Regions from separate parts of the Homo sapiens genome. Here all the other regions are linked to region 3. Evidence: fine-mapped expression QTL. A gene starts in region 3. Each other region holds a variant in brackets. All regions are shown on one strand. Distances are from middle to middle. Region 1 has its middle 96 kb from the start of MIR4289. Region 2 overlaps LOC124902205 (a long non-coding RNA gene). Region 3 holds the start of S1PR3 (sphingosine-1-phosphate receptor 3). Region 4 overlaps LOC124902205 (a long non-coding RNA gene).

Region 1 (5,151 bases), 150 kb after region 3:
AACAAATAGATCAATGAGCCAGAAAAAGAGACCAAGAAACAGATCCTCACACACACATATTAACAACTGATTTTCAACAAAGGTGAAAGACAATTTAGTAAAGAAAAGATTGTCTTTTCAACAAATTGGATATCTATATACAAAAATAAAAATAATTTCAGTCTATACTTTGCACCATATAAAATAATCAATTATAAATAGATTACAAATATAAATGTAAGAGCTACAACTACAAACTCCTACAAGAAAACAGGAGGTTTTTTGGTGACCTTGTGTTAGGCAAAGATTTCTTAGATATTGTACAAAAAGCACAACCCTTAAAAAAACTATAAATGTAGCTTCATCAAAGAATCTTTTGTTTTCTGAAATATATTGTTAAGAGAATTAAAAAAATCAAACCCCAAACTGGAAAAAATATTCATAAAGCATATATCTGATGAAAAATCTTATCCAGAATATATTTAGAAACTCTTAAAACTCAACAATAAGAAAACAAACCATAAAAAAATTGACAGAAGATTAAGATGTTTCACCAAAGAATATTATATATATATATATATATATAATCAATAAGCACATGAAAAGTTGTTATTAGGAAAATGCAAATTAAAACTGCAATGAGGTATCATCACACATCTATTAGAATGATTGAATTAGACAGATTTATTTTGTCAAGTATTGGCCAGAACCTGAAGCAACTGTAACTCTCATACACTGCTGGTGGGAATGTAAAATGGCAAGACCACTCTGGAAACAGGTTTGGCAACTTCTTCAAAAGTGTAATAATAATAAAATAAAATAAAATAAAAAAAGTTAGTCATACACTTCTGATCCAAACATTTCACTTCTAGGTTCTTACCCAAAATAAATGAAAGCATATATCCATACAAAGATGTATTCACTATGTTCACAGCAACTTTATTTGTAATAGCCCCAAACTGGAAATAACCCAAATGTCTATGAACAGATGAATACTTCAGCAAAGTTGGCATTTCCATACAATGGAAAATTACTCAACTATAAAAAAACTTAACTATTGATACACTATATGACATTGATGCATTTCAAAATAATTATGATGAGAGAAAAAAAGCCAGATTAAAAAAATACATAGTATATAACTTAATATATATAATATTCTAGAATTTGCAAACTAATTTATAGTGAGAGGGAAAAAAAATTAGTGATTCCCTTGGGATATTGAGGTAAGTCAAAGAGGGGCCAAATACGAGGAATTAAAAAGGGTACAGGGAACCCTTTGGGGTAATGAATATCTTCATTATCTTAACTATGGTGATGGTTTCATGGGTGTATATGTTAAAAGTGTATATGTCAAAAACTTAAACTGAACACTTTAAATATACACAATTTATTTATTTATTGTATGCCAATGCTTTATTATACTTAGATAAAGCTGTTTTTTAAAGTCTATGAGATATGAATAGTTATTCCCAAAGTTAAGTTCATAGACTTAAATCTTTACATTGCTAAGTGAGAAATAATAAACTAATAAAAAATCTTCAGAAATAAGAAAAATAAGAAATAACAAAAAATGAAAAAAAGGAAAAAGTCAATACAGAAGAAGCAAGATTTTAAGAACCAGGAAACAATTAATAATAGAACTGACAAATCTCAGTGCTTGTTCATTATAGATCCCAGGATAGAGTTGCACCAACTGCCCAGGCTCATTAATAAACAAGGTAAGGGAAGGTATAAGCACACAAACTTAGCACTGTGTGCCGGGACATAGCCACAGGTACAAAGAAAGAAGAAGTATGACAGGACACAGTTATTGATTTAAACAGTTATTGATTTGTGCTAATAAATTTGAAAACTTGATTAAATAGGTGATTTTCTAGGAAAATATAAATCACAAAATTTGATTTTATAAGAGATTTTTTTAAAAAACCTAAAGAGACCAATAAAAGCAAAATAAATTGTGAAGATTCCTAAAGTGATATTGCCCAAATTGCCAAGCCCATATTTTTTCCCACTTTCAAAGAAAACATGATTCTGATGATATTTATACGGTTTGGAACTTATAAGGAAGATGGGAAGCATCCAAATTTCTACTATGAATGAACATAACAGTGATTACAATACTTGACAAACAAAATGGAAAAAATAAAACAGAGATTGGTAGTATTAATATCCCCATTTAACAGATGTTGAGAACTTTTTCCAAGTCACATATCCATTTGGAATAGAGTTGGTATTTGAATCCAAGTAAGGTAATTTCCAAACCCTGTTTCTCAACTACTACTCAGTAATAAAAACTAAAAGTATTTCCTGTAAAGTCAGATGAAAGATGGAGACACTTACTTATGCCCCTTGTATTGTCATAAATACTTAGTCAAAGCAATGAAGTGGAAGAAGAGATAAGACTAAAGTGGAAGAAAAAAGGTAATGAGTATAACTGGCTGATGTGACTCT[G/A]CGCCTAGAAAATTATGATGGCAGCTAGGCAGTCCAAAGTGGTTGGGCAAAAATAATAATGAGGATGATGGCAATAGGGGTATGATAGAAAACTTGAATAAATGGAAAACATGAGTTCATTATGCTTGGAAAAGAAGGCTTAAAACAATAATTCTGAAATTAGTAATGAATGCAATTCTAAAATTCCCCTGGCAAAATTATTCTAAAATTAACCAGTATAGGATTAGCCTGAAAATTTTTAAAGAAAAAAATGATGTGAGTCTAGTTATATCTGTTAAATACAATATATTATGATGCTAATAACATAGGACAATATAGTGTTGTACAGGAATAGACTGATAGAAAGTGGAACTAGTTCTGTTTTTGCCCAGCACCACAGTCTGCAAGCCCACCACAGTCTGCAAGCACAGTCTGCATGCCAAATGCATGTGAAAACTCCATAGATCAAAAATTGGTGTTTCAAATGAAAGTATACCTGTGTAGAAAAAGATAGCTTGTCATTTGAAAAATCACAAAAATGCTTATTCCTACCTTATTTCAAAAGACATTTCAGATAAATAAAAATATTAACTACAAAAAAAAAAGCCACAAGTGCACTATAAACCAAACAGGTAGATTTGTATAGATTTTTCCAAATTATGGAAATTCTTTCTAAATATGCTATAAATTCCAGACATCACAAAGGAAAAAATTGATTAATAAATTTGACTTTATAAAAATTTTCCAGCCAGGCACGGTGGCTCATGCCTGTAATTCCAGCACGTTGGGAGGCCGAGGTGGGTGGATCACTTGAGGTCAGGAGTTCGAGACCAGCCTGGCCAACATGGTGAAACCCCGTCTCTACTAAAAATACAAAAATTAGCCAGACGCAGTGGTGCGCAACTGTAATCCCAGCTACACGGGAGGCTGAGACATGAGAATCATCTGAACCCGGGAGGCGGAGGTTGCAGTGAGCTGAGATCATGCCACTACACTTCAGCCTGGGTGACAGAGCAAGACTCCATCTCAAAATAATAATAATAATAATAATTGCACAAAGTAACAAAGGAAGTAGACAAATGCCATACTATTTATTAGGAAGTAGAAATTAGTTGTATTTCATACAACAAAGACAGAATTTCTTAATATATAAAATGCTCATACAAATCAATAAGAAAAAGATAAACAATTCTATTGAACATAAACTACAAAGGACTTGAACAAGTAGTTCATAGAAAAAGAAATATCAATGATGGTATACACATGAACAGAGGCTCAACTTCATCACTAATGTTACTGCAAATGTAAACAATGATGAGATTCTATTTCTCGCCTATCAGATTAAAAGTTTAATATTGCCCAGTGTTGGCGAGAATGCGGGTAACATTTTCAATGAATATAAATTGGTGGCCGGGCATGGTGGCTCATGCCTGTAATACCAGCACTTTGGGAGGCCCAGGCAGATGGATCACGAGGTCAGGAATTCGAGACCAGCCTGGCCAACATGGTGAAATGCCGTCTCTACTAAAAATACAAAAATTAGCCGGGTGTGGTGGCAGGCACTTGTAATCCCAGCTACTCAGGAGGCTGTGGCAGAACAATTGCTTGAACCCAGGAGGCAGAGGTTGCAGTGAGCTGAGATCGCGCCACTGCACTCCAGCCTGGGTGACAGAGTGAGACTCTGTCTCAAAAAAGAAAAAAATGTATATCTTACAGAGATACACTATTGGCATGATTGTGCAAACACACACACACACAATTGTGGAACATATGTTAATTTCAGGAGGTATTACGTACTTATTTTCTCTAAATATGAAAATCGGTAGCATTTTGAAATGAAATTGAATATAAGTTGTCTGCATTCTTCTAAAGAAAAGTTTTGTATGTGTTAAAGTAATTTCTTATTTGCGTATAACCTGTTGACAGCTTCACTGGAGACTGGCAACTGTCAACCTCTCATGTGCTAACTAAGAAAACCACCAGAACTTCCTAGTCAGGCACAGAACACTATCTTTTTTTCCTGGGAAAAGAAAGATGCAGCATTTTATAAGTGCTTGCTGAGGGTACCCCAGACACAGGACTGCTTTTGTGAAACACTTGTGGGTATCCAGCAGCAGCTGTGTGGTCCCAGTGCTTGGAAATGAAAACCAGCACCCTCTCAGAGAAGGAGAATCAAATTTGTACTCCAGTAACATGCTGGCTTTCAGCAGCAAAGCCTTAGCTTTTTCTGGGAAGAGAACTCCTCAAGGCTGAGTTGATTACTAAGATAATCTAAGAGATCTGAGTCAGGTAGAGAGCCCCAGACACCCGAAATATGTAGGAAAACAAGAGAAACCTTTGACTATTTAGAGAAATTAAAATAAGCTTTCATTTTGGTTATTACTGTAAAGAAAAATGATTGGTGAAATGTGATACCTACCATTTTCAGAAGAGGTCAAAACAAGGGCCTATGGAATTTGCTGGAAGCCAGTTTTGCTTAGGCCTTGAATCCATGACCAATCATCTCAGGATTGTTGAATTTGTCAAATAAAGCAGGGCTCTGGCATTTGAAATGGATCTTGATCACATTTTCCACAGAATGAATTTCTGCTGTGATGAGCCTTTGTATGCTTCCTGGTAGCCCCGTCCACTGAGGCAGGCAACAGCGGGCTTCCTCGTCGATTATTTGTTAAGGGTGATTCAATGCTGAATGAAACATGACCCTTTTATTCCACATGTGAGGGATTACATCCTCACACA
Region 2 (5,151 bases), 71 kb after region 3:
GATTAGCAACTGTGGTCAGCAGTGGGTGATGCCATGTGTACGACTATGTCTTAAAACCACCTTCAGACCAGAGATCCCACACTTCCTAATTTCCTAAAATTCTGTCACTGCATGGACCACATGTAGACAGGTATATAAGCATTTATAATCCAACGAGGGAGAGCACACTAAAAGACTGAAAAAAAAGAGAGAGAGAGAGAAAGAGAAAAGACCCATCCTGCTCTGAATTTTAGTGGGTGTTTTGTTGGAAGAAAGTGAAAATAAGAATAGACAGAAAAGGCAAAGGTAAGAAACCTAGAAAATAAAAAAAAATCTGAAAATCAGAGAAAGTTAAAAACATAAAGCAAAACCACACAGGAGAAAGAAGAAGAAAAGGGGAATAACCAAAGCAAATGAGAATATCTGAGAGACAAGAAAATCCTTTAGGCACAGCTAAAAATAGAAAAAGTAGCTCTTTTTATACATCTTCATTTAGGAGATTATCTGAACACTGAGATTTGAGGCATCTGACTTTGAGGTATCATGTGTACATAAAAGTAATCAAATGAGCCATTTAAGCATGTTTCCTTGAAATAAAATGTTAGTTTTCAGTTCTTCCTTTGAGTTGACGAAAGATATGCATTCTCATAGAGCCCCACTTTATTATTTTAGTATAAGATTGGAAAAAGCATATTATATGTTTAGTAAATTGGATTCAAATGAGACAATGTATCAGAAAATGGAATTTTTAATTTGGTTTTAAAATGTTCCTATTTAAGAGATGGTCAAACAGGTGTGAGACAGAAGAAAAGAACATCAAAGCGGGTGGGGCCAACGAACCCTCACGTCTCTGCAGATGGAAACAAGGCCGTGGTTATTGCGGTCTCACGTGCTGTGCATCTTCAGGGCTCTCGCTTGTGAACTTTCTGGCCTATAACATTGCAGCTAAACCTCAAAGATCAAGGCTCAGGCACTGTGTTTGCCTGGAGGTCGTTTACTGCTTCCACCCAGTCAGCTCTTGTGGTTCATTAGTTTTGCTGCAGCAGCGGAGAGGGAAGGAGTTTGACTGTGCAAATGGTGCCCGCAGAGCCTCCAGGCACACACAGGGCAGATCCTTTCTAGAATTTTTTATAGCTTGCATCATTCAATAGCTCCAGGCTGTCCCCAAGCCCCATCTTTCGGGTTTGATGGGTTGAATTGTGTCCTTTCAGAATTCATAGGCTGAAGTCCTAACCTGTATCCACACCCTTCTTCCTTTCACTTGTGTGTGTATCATTTTCTGGATATTTGTAAATGTTTAGGCTCCTAGGCCCTCCCCATGCCCACTAATCCCTAGCTGGCCCCTCAAACAGGTGGCAGATGCTGTTACAATGCCCATTGTGCTTAGTACATCGGTGGGCCTGGATGATCTGAGGCCATCAGTCCGTGGTCACTTTGGGGGTTCAATGTTAACTTTGGTGCTGAAAACACAGTTTGCAGACCTTCAGCACAGGGATCGCCCGGGAGCCTTTTAGATATGCAGAATCTTAGGTCCCACCCCAGACCCACTGAATAAGACTCTGCATTTTAACAAGATGCTGGAGTATTTCACATGCACTGTCCTTAGACCATGTGAGGGACTAAGTTCCTAAGCAGCCAGTCTCCTATTATGCCACCCAAAGGAGAACTCTTTGCTCTAATAAAGCAACTGAATTCCACAGAATCTCTAGAGTCTTGAGGCTATTTTCTTCCTATTAAAAACTATTATCAAATTTTGATCCTTACATTATCACCCTCCTCTGCATCATCATTTTCTGATTCATACAAATAAACTTTGCAGTGGAGTAGACCCTACAGTTGGGAAGTTGGCTCCAGCACATCTGCTAAGAATTTGCTGGGAATGTATACCTTCCCAATAACATTCCTCTTTTGCTGCTGATGAAAGTTCTACACCTTTCAGATGTGTGTGTGTGTGTGTGTGTGTGTGTGTGTGTGTGTAGAAGGTTAATTGATGCTTTTTAAAAATGTGGCCCATTTGAAGCTTTGAAAAGACATGCTCCTTTTCCCACTAAAGTGATGGCCAACCTATCTCTGCCATCTCAGA[G/T]ACTGGCTCCCTGTGACACTTGCAGAATTATTCCACTGTGTCCCTCCTTCTGCCAGACACAACCAGCCACCTTTCCCTCTTGAATCTTTGGACTTACCTTCCAGTGGCTGAAAGGGCCAAGCTTACGTGTGTTCCTAGGAACAGTCTGCCTACAAGTTATCACCTCCATACCCCAAGAATGAGCATCTGCTCCTTAAGCTCCCCCATCCAAGACACTGGAAATTTCTTCAATGCAGGGAAAAACATTTTACTTCATTATTAGGAGATGGACTTGAAATCAAGGTAGACCTGTGGTACACTGACAGGCCCCACCAGGTGGAGGTAATGAGATGCTGGAAAGCAGGGCTGGGTCTTTGGAAACAGGAATACCAGGATATGGGGCCTCCAGCAATGCATGAGGAGGTGAAGCTAAGGGTGTCAAGTTCAGCCTCACCAATTTCTTAACTGTACTGGAGCATTTTGGACTGTTCTAACATGGGATTTCTCTTTGTCAGTTAGGAGAGGAGTGGCCCTCTTCTCAGCAATGCCTTCCTGTCAGGGTGGTCTATTCATGAGTCACAGCCTTAAGTGAGGTCAGGTCACTTGCTGGCCCTTCATCCTCCACATAGGACTTTGGCAGACCCTTATCCCTTCCCAGCCCAGGTTTCTTGATCAATGGTACACATGATCACACCTGCCATGGGGTTTATAACTGGTAGAACAACTCTGATGAAAATGTCTGGACTTTTCAAAACACACCAGCTTTATTCCAGGATGGCCCCAGAATTTCCCAGAGATCCAAACAGAATCCTGGAAATCTGTTAAGCTTTGGATGCCCAGGACTGCACAGGTTTCTTAGTAGCATGAGAACAAGGAGAGCATGGTTCATGAGGTGAAAAAAATGCAAGAAATAAGGCTTAGAAATAAAAATAATGCAAGCAACCATTTCTGAAAGACTAGATGTACTCTGGAGATGGCCTGCTCTGTACAAACACATTCATAAAGTATTGCAGAACTTGGCAGTGGGTGCCATCTATGAAGCTCCTGAGTGTCAGTCTTTTCCTCTATATAATGGGGATATTAACATCACTTGGATTTAATGATTTGGTGCCACCACCAACACTGATATGATTTGCTGTGTCCCCACCCAAATCTCATCTAGAATTTTAGCTTCCACAATTCCCACATGTTGTGGGAGGGACCCAGTAAGAGGTAACTGAATCATGGGGGTAAGTTTTTCCTGTGTTGTTCTTGTGATAGTGAATAAGTTTCACAAGATTTGATGGTTTTATAAGGGGAGATATCTCTGCACAAGCTCTCTCTCTTTGCTTGCTGCCATCCATGAAAGACATGACTTGCTCCTCCTTGCCATCCACCATGATTGTGAGTCCTCCCCAGCCACAAGGAACTGTGGGTCCATTAAACCTCTTTCTTTTGTAAATTGCCCAGTCTCAGGTATGTCTTTATCAGCAGCATGAAAACGGACTAATACAGTAAATTGGTACCAGTAGACCAGGGTGCTGCTAAAAAGATACCCAAAAATGTGGAAGCAACTTTGTAACTGGGTAACAGGCAGAGATTGGAACAGTTTGGAGGGCTCAGAAGAAGACAGGAAAATGTGGGAAAGTTTGGAACTTCCTAGACACTTGTTGAATGGTTTTGACAAAAATGCTGATAATGATGTGGACAATGAAATCCAGGCTGAGGTGGTCTTAGATGGAGATAAGGAACTTGTTGGGAACTGGAGTAAAGATGACTCTTGTTATGTTTTAGCAAAGTGACTGGAGGTATTTTGCCCCTGCCCTAGAGATTTGTGGAACTTTGAACTTGAGAAAGATGATTTAGGGAATCTGGCAGAAGAAATTTCTAAGCAACAAAGCACTCAAGAGGTGACTTGAGTGCTGTTAAAGGCACTCAGTTTTATAAGGGAAGCAGAGCATAAAAGTTTGGAAAAATTGCAGCCTGACAATGTGTAGAAAAGGAAATCCCATTTTCTGAGGACAAATTTAAGCTGGCTGCAGAAATTTGGGTAAATAATGAGAGGCTGAATATTAATCCCCAAGACAATGGGGAAAATGTTTCCAGGGCATGTCAGAGGGCTTCACAGCAGCCCCTCCTATCACAGGCCTAGAGGACTAGGAGGAAAAAGTGGTTTAATGGGCTGGGACCAGGGTGCCCTTGCTCTGTGCAGCCTAGGGACTAGGTGCCCTGCATCTCACTCACTCCAGCCATGGCTAGAAGGGCCCAAGGTATAACTCAGGCCATTGCTTCAGAGGGTGCAAGCCCCAAGCCTTGGCAGCTTCCACATGGCATTGAGCCTGTGAGTGCATGGAAGTCAAGAATTGAGGTTTGGGAACCTCCACCCAGATTTCAGATGATGAATGGAAACACCTGGATGCCCTGGCAGAAGTTTGCTGCAGGGGTGGGGCCCTCATGGAGAACCTCTGCTAGGGCAGTACAGAAAGGAAATGTGGGGTCACAGCTCCCACACAGAGTCCCTACTGGGGCACTGCCTAGTGGAGCTTTGAGACGAGGGCCACTATCCTTCAGTCCCCAGAATGGTAGCTCCACCAACAGCTTGCACCATGCACCTGGAAAAGCTGCAAACACTCAACACCATCCCATGAAAGCAGCCAGGAGGGAGATATATACCCTGCAAAGCCACAGGGCAGAGCTTCCTAAGACCATGGGAACACACCTCTTGCATCAACATGACCTGGATGTGAGACATGGAGTCAAAGGAAATTATTTTGGAGCTCTAAGATTTGACTGCACCACTGGATTTTTGGGTGGGTGTCTCCCTCTCTCTGTGCAGTCCTGGCTTCTTCCTCTAGATGAATCTTCTCTTCATTGTCTCTCTGCAGGGTGTCTCCACCAGGGAGCTGTGCTTTATACAGCATGGTTCAGGGACCCCCAAAAGCACATGGCTTGGGCTGCCAGGTCTTCCTAGGGTTTATTCTGGAAGTAGCACTACATTATTTCTGCCACCTTCCATTGAAAACAGGTCCCAAGCCCAGCCCAGATTCAAAGAGAGGGGATCACCCAAAGGCTCGGATCCTGAGAGGGGTGGCCATTGGGGACATGAGGCTACTCCTACTCATATCTTCACT
Region 3 (5,151 bases):
GAGGGGGGGTGTCACTTGTCCTTAGTCACAGAGCTGGGAAGGGGCTGGGCCGGTGTCCGTGCCATCTGATTCCAGGATGTCACATTAGGGATGAGCTCTTTGGGAGGCTGCCACCTTGCCACTGGTTCTTTGCCTAGGTAGTGACAAGAGATTCTCTGGCATGTTTTAGAGACAAACTGCCTCATGCTCCCATGCCAGCAGAATGTTAGCATGTCATTCTGGGGGCACTGAAATATCTGGAAAATTTTGAAGCCAGGAAAATGGAGCGGCATCTGCAAGGCCGAAGAGCACCATCCACTGCTTGAGGAGCGGACCGTCACCTCGCTGTGTGAGCTGACCCCAGTCCGGCCTGTGAGCAGTGAAGATCCACTCACTGGGCACCAATCTGCACTGGACAATCTCGTCACTGATTTAACCCAACTGGCCTATTGTCTCTTACAGACACAGCTTCAATGCCTCAAAAATAGGATTCAAAAAAGGGAAGGAGACTTTATGCCCAGTAGCTATAACAGTAACATCAACTGAAACATGTTATTAACTGAAACTAGATACGATTCCACTCAGTCTATTCTTTTTCTTTTTTCTCAAACATTATACATTTCCAAAAGCTTAAGGAAAATCTTAAGGCAATTAATTTGGCAGAAAACATATGGCAGAGGAATAATAGGAAATGCCTCCAAAACTGATAAGAAAGGAATTACAAAGCCAAATATGAAGAAACAGAAAGTTTCATAGAACCCACAGCACAGCACCCTGGTTCCAGCTAAGGTAAACAGACTGCATAAGGCTGGCGGCCTGGCTCTGGTAACACTTGGGAAACAGTACAAAGTCCTGGCAGTTAAAGGGTTCTACAGCAGGGCAACCTCAGATTTTTCAAGATTGTGGCATGCTCAAATTCTCCTTTTTTTGGTAATAAAAATATACCTACAGTATATAATAAAAATATACATACAGCACAGGCATTGAGGAAGATGAAAGAGATACCATGAAATCAAGTTAATGTCATAATTTCCAGAAAGAGGAAACCAGTTCCTGAATTTTGAGAAATAAGATCCTTCGGCCACTATGTGAAGTTTCTTCTATAGGAAACTGTAGTCTCTACCCTTTGTATATGGTAGAAAATCAGAGACTCATGCATTTGAATAAAAATCACAATGATAAAGGGAGAAATGGCACTTTCAAAGATGAAAACTGGTTGAGAAATCATTCTCTCTAAATCTTAGGGGGAGGCTCTTAAGGGCTAGCTTCAGTTTGTATCTCTGGTGTTAGGTGATGGAAGTGATTTCAGAGGCCCAAAGTGAGTGCTTACTGGTTTGCTAATGAAAAAAGCCTGACGTGCGGTTCTTCTTCTATGGCAACAAAGTTATTCAACCTAGCATTAAGGTCTGCATCCATGAAATAATACTTTACAGATATGAACACTTCCACAACTCCTCAAGCGCACACACACACACACACACACATGCCCCGCACCATCACCACCTCCTCAACCAACACCAGCCCTGGGCATGGCCAGCTATCCTTGTTAGTCATGTATCTGCAGAGCATAATCCTTCCCTTGTACTTTCTAGGAATTATATTTTTCTTAACTATGCCTGCAAGATTTTCATCTATGAATAAAAAACATTGAAAAGATAAATTATGAATATGTGGTTATATACAAAGTCTGTGACTTCTAATGTCCAGATTTTAGAATGATGCCTAATTCTGGAGGTCTCAGAGGTCCAAGTGGGAGTGGGTACCATGAATGGGGGGGCCTCCATTTAAAAGTAACCTTCTAAAGAGCTCTCTGTTCCTGTAGCTCCCCTTTCCTTATTGGAAGGGTCAAAACGAAGTGTGTTCCCTTAAAAATCCAACAAGAAGTTCCTCTCTTATATCCAAATATAAAAACACCACAAAGAAATATACCATTGGGAGTGTCCAAAGCCAGAAAGTCAGAGGAAGAGAGAGAGAGAGAGAGAGAGAGAGACTGACTATTGGGAGACTCAAAAAGCCCAAAGCCCCTTCTCTAGCTGTTATCTCAGTTACGAACACAACGTACTGATTTTCCGTGGGAACCTCATTATTGCACTGTGGGGACTTCGTCTTCCAGCACCGATTCTGACGGCCCTAATTGCCTTGTTTGAGAAATGTTAGGAAAAAACTAATTTTCCGGCGAATATTGTTTAAAAGAATGATTTTCCCAGGCTAACGACCACAACCCTCTCCCACGTCCAGCATCCCCAGGCCCTGGCACTGTGGAAGCCTAACTTGTTAATTGTCCAAGGAAAACGACTGATGGAACTTCTCCACGAACAGCCTCTCCACTTTCATCCAGGTATTCAGCTCCAGCCCGTTGTAAACGCTCCGGGTGCGGTGGAAAAGGCCTCCTCCCTGTTCCTGCAGCGGCTCTGGGGGAGGGGTGCTGATGTGGAGCGCTCCGGCCGCCGTGGCGCGCCCAAGTCCCCGTCGCGCCCGGGATCGGTGGGGATTTTGTTGGAAAGGTGGGTCCTTCGGCCCCCAGCCCCCCACCCTGGTTCCGCGCCCCGCCCGGGCCCGCCTCTCACCTCCGTCGGCTGAGGGCGCTGGGGCCACCGGCATCCTAGCGGGTGGCGCGCGGCGGTGCCGGGGCGCCCGGTCCTGCGCTCGAATGCCAGATGGGCTGGGAGGCCCGGCAGTCTCAGCGCTCGCGACGTCGTTCCCGGGCCTGGGGTCCTGCTCGGTCGCGTCCTGCAGCCGCCTTCTGGTCCCTGAGTCCCTGTTGCCCGTCCCCGGAACCGGCTTCCTCGGCCTCTGCCCGAGCGAGTCAGAGACTAAACTTTTCCAGCGGCCCGCCGGGGCGGGACCCGCGCTCCGCCCCTCCCCTCGCCGCCCCCGACTCCCGCCCCTCTCCCCGCCCCCCTCTCCCCGTCCCCCGCCCGCGAACCCGGCACTCCTCCAGCTCCCCACCTCCCGCTCAAGCCGCCTGGTCTCCGTGCGCCCCGCCCGCCCCTAGCCTGGACCCCTTCTCCCCGACCCTACCAATCCCCTAGGGTCCGGCTCGCCCTTCGGCCCCTGTTCCCAGGCCGGCCTCCAGACCTTGTCCTCATCGGGCGAGCTCCAGGTGCAGAAACCGGGCGCCCAGAGACCCAGCGGGAACAGGCTTGGAACCAGGTCCGAGGTCTGGGCTTGGGCGGGCGCCTGTCGCCCTGACAGCGAGGGTTTGTTTGGGCCGATTCTTAATAGGAGGATTAATACTATCATTATCGTTGTCCAGATCCTGACCATTTCTTTTGTAACTGGCCGAGCACCGGCTTGGGCTTGCAGGTGGGCGCCTGGCGCCGGACAGCGTTTTTGTTTGGGCTTCTTCCTTTTCCGCGCGGGTCCCCTCCGGCGCCTGCCTGGTCCCTCTCCGCGCTCTACCCCCAGGCACGCAGAGACTTGGGCTCCAGGCGGGGGCAGCACTCTCCCCCAGCCTCTGCTGGTGCACCAGAGCCCACTCCGGCACAGAGCAGCGCCCCTCCTAGACCGGCAGCCAGCAGATCTCAGCCGACCCCCATGCGACCCCCTTCCTCACGCGGATTTGCCCCTTTTGTGTGGCAAAAATAATAATAATAATAATAAATCCATATGAAGGCTTCAAACAGAATTCCGAGAGAAGGAACTGCCAAATTTTCAATCAATGCCAAAGGCCATGATTGAGCGAACACAGAAACAACTGTAGAAGCTTGGGGAGAAAGGAGAAAATTAAAGAAAAAGGAGGAGGAGGAAAAGGAGAGAGGAGAGAAGCGGGAGGAAGAAGACGAAAAAGCAAGGAGAGGCCTGTTATCCGACCGTGCATTCCTGGGCCGGCAGGATTGGGCCGCAGGGGCCGCTGCAGAGAGTTGAGTTTGTGCAAAGGCCGCTCGTTACTTTCTGTCTTTTGCCCTCTTGCCTCCAGAGGATCAGCCCAGCGCATCCTTCTCTTGGAGCAGGGTGCATACGCTTATTTGGGGTGCAGTTTGAGCGGTGAAGGGCACCAAGAGTGGAAGTCGGCGGCACTCCTGTTCCCTGCAGAGAAACGCAAGCCCTCAGCAATTGAGCTGAAGGAGGCAAGTGACTCTGCCTGCTGAGGCTGCCAGCCCTAGAGGCTCTGGCCCCCGGGAGCTGGGGTACTTCCCAGCGTTTTCGCCTAAGCCACTTCGCCTGTGCTACTGTGGAGTCTTCCGGCACTGTAGCCTTCCAACTTGTTCAAAGTGCCTGGTGCACGGCTCTGAGAAGCCACTTCTGTCCCAAGTTTCATGTGGGCCTGAATGTGCTTCCCTTTGTTGGACTCCTACAGCATCAAGTCAAGAAAAGAAGGAAACATGCTCCTTTGGCATTGGTCACAACCAGGATAACAATACAGCATACTGTGGCCACTGTGTCTATATTACCAAAGTGGTCAGTAGGTTCATCACACCTCTGTTCAATTAGTTGCTTCCCGTGATGAAAAATTTACTGCTAGGATACTGGCTGAGGGTTGTTTTAAGGGGCACCCAAGTCTCCGTTCCTAGAGAAAGTCAGTTACCCTGATATAACAGAGCAACCTTGAGGCGTGGTGATGCCTCCAAAACTAGTCTGCGGAATCGGAGCCCAGAAGCCCTGAGGAGTAATGTGGCTCTCATGCTTTATGGCAGGTTTCCCTAAGAGAGACCCAGGATCTGACCCATGGCATCACTGAAATTCCTCTTTCAGTGAGGCTCCGTTTGCCTAAAGATCCCTGTCCTCAGTGGGTCTCCCCACACACGGGCCTCTCACTCACCCACTGCCCCACCCCCATCTGCTGCCCTCTTCCTGGGCCTTAAAGCTCAGACACTAGACTCTGACAAGGAGCCCTCCATGCCCCGGTAGAGACCATCTTCTCTCACCACTCCTTTTGAGAGAAACAGCCCTCCCTACAATTCTGTTGAATAAGTCTCCTCCTCTGCATCCTGTTTCACAAGTGAAAGCAGTTTAACAGAAGAATGCCAGCTCATAAACGTAGAAATGCGAGAATGAGGAAATCCCCATTCTGTAACCCTTAATGAAATAATTAAATCAGGCAGTGTGCACTAGTGGGTGTCAAACCCTTAGGTGAAAGTGTGCAGGCGAACGGGTGCTAATTGGAAAAAAAAAAGAAAAAGGTTTTCCATTTTCCATTTTTTTATGGAGACATCTGGCTGTACCTTACAG
Region 4 (5,151 bases), 120 kb after region 3:
TAAAACTGGGGACCAGTCAAATGTCCACCAGCAGATAAACGAATAAACAAAATGAAAGTGGAACTTCCATATGATGAGTAATACTCAACATAAAAGGGAATGATTACTGATATGCAAAAATACAGATGAATCTCAAAATCACTATGCTGAGTGAAAGTAGTCAGGCACAAAAGGTCACATATTACATGCTTTCATTTATATAAAACTCTAGGAAAGAGATTTTTAGTGACCAAAAGCAAATCAGGGGTTGCTTGGGCCCAGAAGCAGAGGGAGGGAGGGACTACAAAGAGGTACAAAGAAAAAAAAAGGGCAGGGTGTCATATGTGAATTCTACATCCCTCAATAAAGCTGATTTTCTTTTTTTTTTTTTTTTTTTTGTTTTTAGGAGACTGAGTCTTGCTCTGTCGCCCAGGCTGGGGTGCAGTGGCACAATCTCAGCTCACTGCAACCTCTGCCTCCCAGGTTCAAATGATTCTCCTGCCTCAGCCTCCCGAGTAGCTGGGACTACAGGCGTGCACCACCACACCCGACTAATTTTTGTATTTTTAGTAGAGATGGGGTTTCACTATGTTGGCCAGGCTGGTCTCGAACTCCTGACCTCATGATCAGCCCACCTCAGCCTCCCAAAGTGCTGGGATTACAGGCATGAGCCACCGCGCCCAGCCAATAAAGTTGATTTTTAAAAAATGTTTCAGGCTCCTGCTTAACCCACAAACTTTAAAACATTAGGAGATCTGTTACTTTTTAGGTGAAATTGGAGAACACAGCCTTCTCTGGAGTCATTGGTATTTGAGGACTTGAAACAGGGAGTACTCATTTTCAGGGCACTTTCAAGATTGTAGAATATTTTGCACAGTATTTCCCTGAGGCAAACAAGATTTCAGTCTGTGAATAGGTTTCAGTGTTTGCTTTGGTTCTTTTCAACACAAGTTTACTCTAAAAAGTAAAGCTCTTTTCCCCCAAAAGTGAATAGTGCCATGACACATTACACTCTCCAAGGAGACTGGTCCTTTCGGCAGACACTCTTTGGAGAGCCACAGTCTCTTAGTCATAGTGACAACTTCTCCCATCCTCAATAATGGCCCTGCACTTATGTGCAGAGACGCCAGGTGGCCATCAGTAACACATGAACTTCCAGTTTCTCCTGCCCAGGAAAGATAATCATATTTACAGGGGTGATCCTTCACATATTCTAAAGCCACTCCTTTGCTGTGACTGCCTGATACTGTGGTATGTGGCTGAGCCACCGAGTGAGTGTAATTGGCTTAGCACGGTGCCAACAGAGCCAAGGTCACAGGCGGGTCAAGGTCAGGCGAGGGGAGGAGATGGGGAGATGGCCGCAGCACAATTTGACCCCTTTCACTGTTCATGTGTCAGCGCTGAAAGCAAACAGCAAATTAATTCCTCAAGTACTTGTATTGTCTAATTAGAAAGAAAATAGCAGTTTTGGGGGCCATAACTTCTGCCTAATTCCAAAGTTCTCAAGTCACTCATGAAGTGATAGTGGCAATGCATATTTATCCATGTTGCCCACGTTTGAACGTATGTTAAAGAATGAAAATCATAACTGTCATCCCCCAAAAGCTTTGAGAAACAGAAAACTCTTCATCCTTGAACCTGCCATCCTGAATGGTCCCTCTTTCTCTTCTGGAATGTAAGAGACTCCCTGCCTCTCGGGCTCTCCAGGGAAAACTGTGTGAGCCTGGAGTCCCTGATCACTGCACCGATCAGACTCCCCTTCCTCGGCAGCTCCTGGTCCTCCTGAGAAGCGCATTTGCATGGCCAGGACAAGGAGAATGAAGCAGGGCCGGTGGGGCTCTCTGCTCCCTCGGGACTAGCAGTGAGAATGCACACCCCGCAAGCACAAGGGTCCTCAGGTGCATGATGCAGCTGGACAGACCCCTCCTGGCAACAGCGTGAGTGCTTCATGAAGATCCGCCCCGGGGCAGGAGCCCAAGAGCCAAGAGCTGCCCAGATGAGGCTGTGACCATGCCAGGAGAACGACCTCTCATAGGTGCTCCATCTCAACAGTGTTTCTAATCAAAACATGAAAAAGGATTATAGATTGGGGAAGAAGAGTAATTCCAGACACACCGGCTCTGCTTTCCCCTCTCCCACAGGAAACTGGGATTTGCCAGTGTATGTCCTCTCTCTCTTTCTCTCTCTCACTCTCTCTCTCTGTCACTCTTTCTCTCCTTTGCTTTTCTGCTTTCTGTCTCTTTCTCTCTGTCTCTGTCTTTCTCTCACTCTCTCACTTTGTCTCTCTGTGTCTCTCTCTCTGTCTCTCATTCTGCCTCGCTGCTCTGTCTCTGTCTCTTTCTGCCTCTCTCCCTCCCTTTCTTCTTCTTTCTTCTTTCTTCCTTCTTCTTCCTTCTTCTTCTTCCTCTTCTTCTTCTT[T/CTTT]CTTCTTCCTCTTTCTCTCTCTCTCTCTCTCTCTATCTCTCTCCCCCTCTCTCTCTCTTTGTTTCACTCTCCCACTCTCTGTCTCTTGAATCTTGGTGACTGCCTTAGATGGGGTGGGGTGGAATGCAGTAGAAGCGATGCTGTGTGGCCTCCAGAGCTGGATCACAGCAGGAGACACTCAAGTCAGCCTGGTCCTCTCGGTTCTCTCTCTCTCTCTCTCTCTCTCTCTCTCTCTCTCTCTCTCTCTCTCTCCCCACACCGCTATCTGCTTTTGACTCTTTCTCAGTGTCTTCCTCTCCCTCTCTCTCCATCTGCCTCTCTCTCTTCCTCTCTTCTTCCCTTCTTTCTTCTCTCTGCCTCTCTCTTTGACTCTTTCTCTCTCTCCTTCCCTCTCTGTCTCTTTCTTTTTCTCTCTCTCCCTCTCTCTTTCTCCTTGACTCTTCTATGTCACTCCCTCCCTCCCTTTATTTCTCCCTCTCTTCTTTATTTCTGTCTCTCTTTCTCTCTGTCTTCTCTCTGGGAACTGTAGGTTCCATTTAGACATGGACAGCTCAGATAAGGGGGTGTGGAAGAAAGTAATGAAAGGTCACAGAGGACTTGGAGCAGAACCAGCTTTGAAAGACCAAATTCCAGGCCTGAGAATGTCGCATTGTATTAGTGCAAGGTTGGTAACAAGAAATTAGCGCTGAAGGTTGAAAGAGTGGATGGGGGGAGATGGAGAAAAGGAAAATGCACATAGATGGTTTTCATACTTTTAACTTCTTTGCTTGACTTAAACATATTGTTTCCCTAAAGAGGAGTGCCCCCTTCCCTCAAAAAATAAAAGAAGTTTAGTGTTGGGCAGTCCCTTATTTTTGTGTGGCCTTGAGTGTGTGGACAGGATGAAAGTGCAGCTTTAATGACAAGGACTGGCCCTGGAATGCTGACAGGAATAATGACTGAGCAGCAACTTAGTTTTCCACATCAGAGCAGGATTTATATTCCATTCACCAACCCTCAGAGGAATTTCCCCTGTCTCTGATTTGGCCTTGTGAATTTTCCGGCTCATAATATCTCTAAGCAGAAGCAAATGTCTGGAGGGGGGAAGCCTGGTTGACAAAGAGAAGCAGCTCTTTGTCTCTCACTGCAGTTTTAAAAAACCCCACAGATTCCTAGTTTCATGGGCACGACTGCATTTTCATCAAAACCAGGGGCTGGGAACAGGGTGGGCGTTGAGTAGCTGGGTTCTTCCTTCAAAGAAGGTCCATTTAGGGACTTGGCTATGGCCGGGCAGTGGGGGACAAAACAGGCCTCACAAAAGTCCTTCCTGGGAGGAGAGACCAGAGATGAGCTAAGCTCAGTTCCTTGTTTCCTCTGGAACATTCCTCTGGAATGGCGACAGGGTGCTGCTTGAGGGGCAACTCACAGCTGGGCAGTGTGACCCTTGCCGTCCATGCCAGCGAAGCAATAACCTCTTCAGATGTCCCCAGCCAGTGCCCCGAGGATCCCATGCTGCAGCGGACACAGCGCTGGGCTGCAGGGGAGGGCTTGGTTCCCAGTGGCCTCACCCCCTAGAGGCCATCAGCATCGCACAGCTTCTCCACTTGGGGGTGACCACTGAGATCTGTGACTCCACCTGAAGGTAGAGAAATACATTTTTAAAATGACAAAATAGGCCAGGCAAGGTGGCTTACACCTGTAATGCCAGCACTTTCGGAAGCCAACTTGGGTGGATCACCTGAGGTCAGGAGTTTGAGACCACCCTGGCCAACATGGCGAAACACTGTCTCTACCAAAAATACAAAAATTATCCAGGCATAGTGGTGGGCACCTGTAACCCCAGCTACTCGGGCGGCTGAACAGGAGAATCGCTTGAACCTGGGAGGCGGAGGTTGCAGTGAGCCAAGATCACACCACTGCACTCTAGCCTGGGCAGCAGAGCAAGATTCCATCTCCAAAAATAAATGAATAAAATACGAATGACAAAATATCTATATTTAATTCATCATTATGATGATCGAACACTCATTAGTAGCTCCTGCTATGGATCATGCTCTTTGAAGGCAAAAAGTACAAAATATGGTCCCTGCCTCAAACTGCTTATGTGTGTTTGGAGAGGGGCTACGCACATTTAAAAAGGATGAAACAAATGGTAGCATCTTAGGGTTGCTCAACTCAAGTTATTCTTATTAGATGTGTATATACATATATACCTCCCAGTTTTGCATATATAAATAACATCTCACACTGGAAGTGAAGTGAGAGATTGGAAAGTCTTTCCCCAAGTCTTTCCCTAACTCTTTAAATAAGTTATTTGACAATATGAACTTTACTGGATTCTAAAATTCTGAATTCAGAAACACATGGACCTCTGGAAAAACTGAATTGGTCATCAGTAAAAATATGTTCCTGCCCTTGGGGAAACACTGAGGAAAATGAACCTTCGCTGGTACAAAAGGACAGGTGACCCTCTGGCTTCCAGCTGCTGTGCTGACCCAACAGCACAAGAGGAGCCACGGAGCCCACCCACTAACCAGGGCTGCTGCCTCCCCACGAGGGTTGGAAGCCAGAGCAAGTCCCTCGGGGTGCGACCCATGAGTAGGAAAAAATTATCTCATTCATGTTCTTTTTAACCAATGGATTTTGCATTGTATTGATTTAGGAATTCAACTGGGTTTAGAGGAAGAAGACTTTTTCCTGGATTCTTGAGGGTCTTCTGCCAAACAAAGGTGCTTTTGCACAGAAGGAGGTGCAGGTGCAGGTGGCAGGTGATTT

What was found. PIP is the estimated chance that this variant, and not a neighbour inherited with it, causes the effect. A credible set is the group of variants that fine-mapping cannot tell apart.
Region 1: its variant is the best candidate, but not a certain one, in a credible set for the expression of S1PR3 in whole blood (INTERVAL, PIP 0.64).
Region 2: its variant is the best candidate, but not a certain one, in a credible set for the expression of S1PR3 in whole blood (TOPMed, PIP 0.75).
Region 4: its variant is the best candidate, but not a certain one, in a credible set for the expression of S1PR3 in whole blood (INTERVAL, PIP 0.51).

What each region holds. Positions count from the first base shown.
Region 1 is chr9:88,839,481-88,844,631 of GRCh38, reverse strand. No RefSeq gene overlaps it. Among named protein-coding and RNA genes, the nearest start is that of MIR4289, 96 kb to the right of the region's middle. The variant G/A (reference allele first, on the strand shown) is at 2,434.
Region 2 is chr9:88,918,071-88,923,221 of GRCh38, reverse strand. The region is part of intron 3 of LOC124902205 (a long non-coding RNA gene); the gene reads right to left. Among named protein-coding and RNA genes, the nearest start is that of S1PR3, 71 kb to the left of the region's middle. The variant G/T (reference allele first, on the strand shown) is at 2,063.
Region 3 is chr9:88,989,091-88,994,241 of GRCh38, reverse strand. S1PR3 (sphingosine-1-phosphate receptor 3) reads right to left here and starts at 2,774. Exons shown (of 2, transcript NM_005226.4): 1 at 2,547-2,774. RefSeq lists a silencer at 2,934-3,228.
Region 4 is chr9:88,870,576-88,875,726 of GRCh38, reverse strand. The region is part of intron 1 of LOC124902205 (a long non-coding RNA gene); the gene reads right to left. Among named protein-coding and RNA genes, the nearest start is that of S1PR3, 120 kb to the left of the region's middle. The variant T/CTTT (reference allele first, on the strand shown) is at 2,398.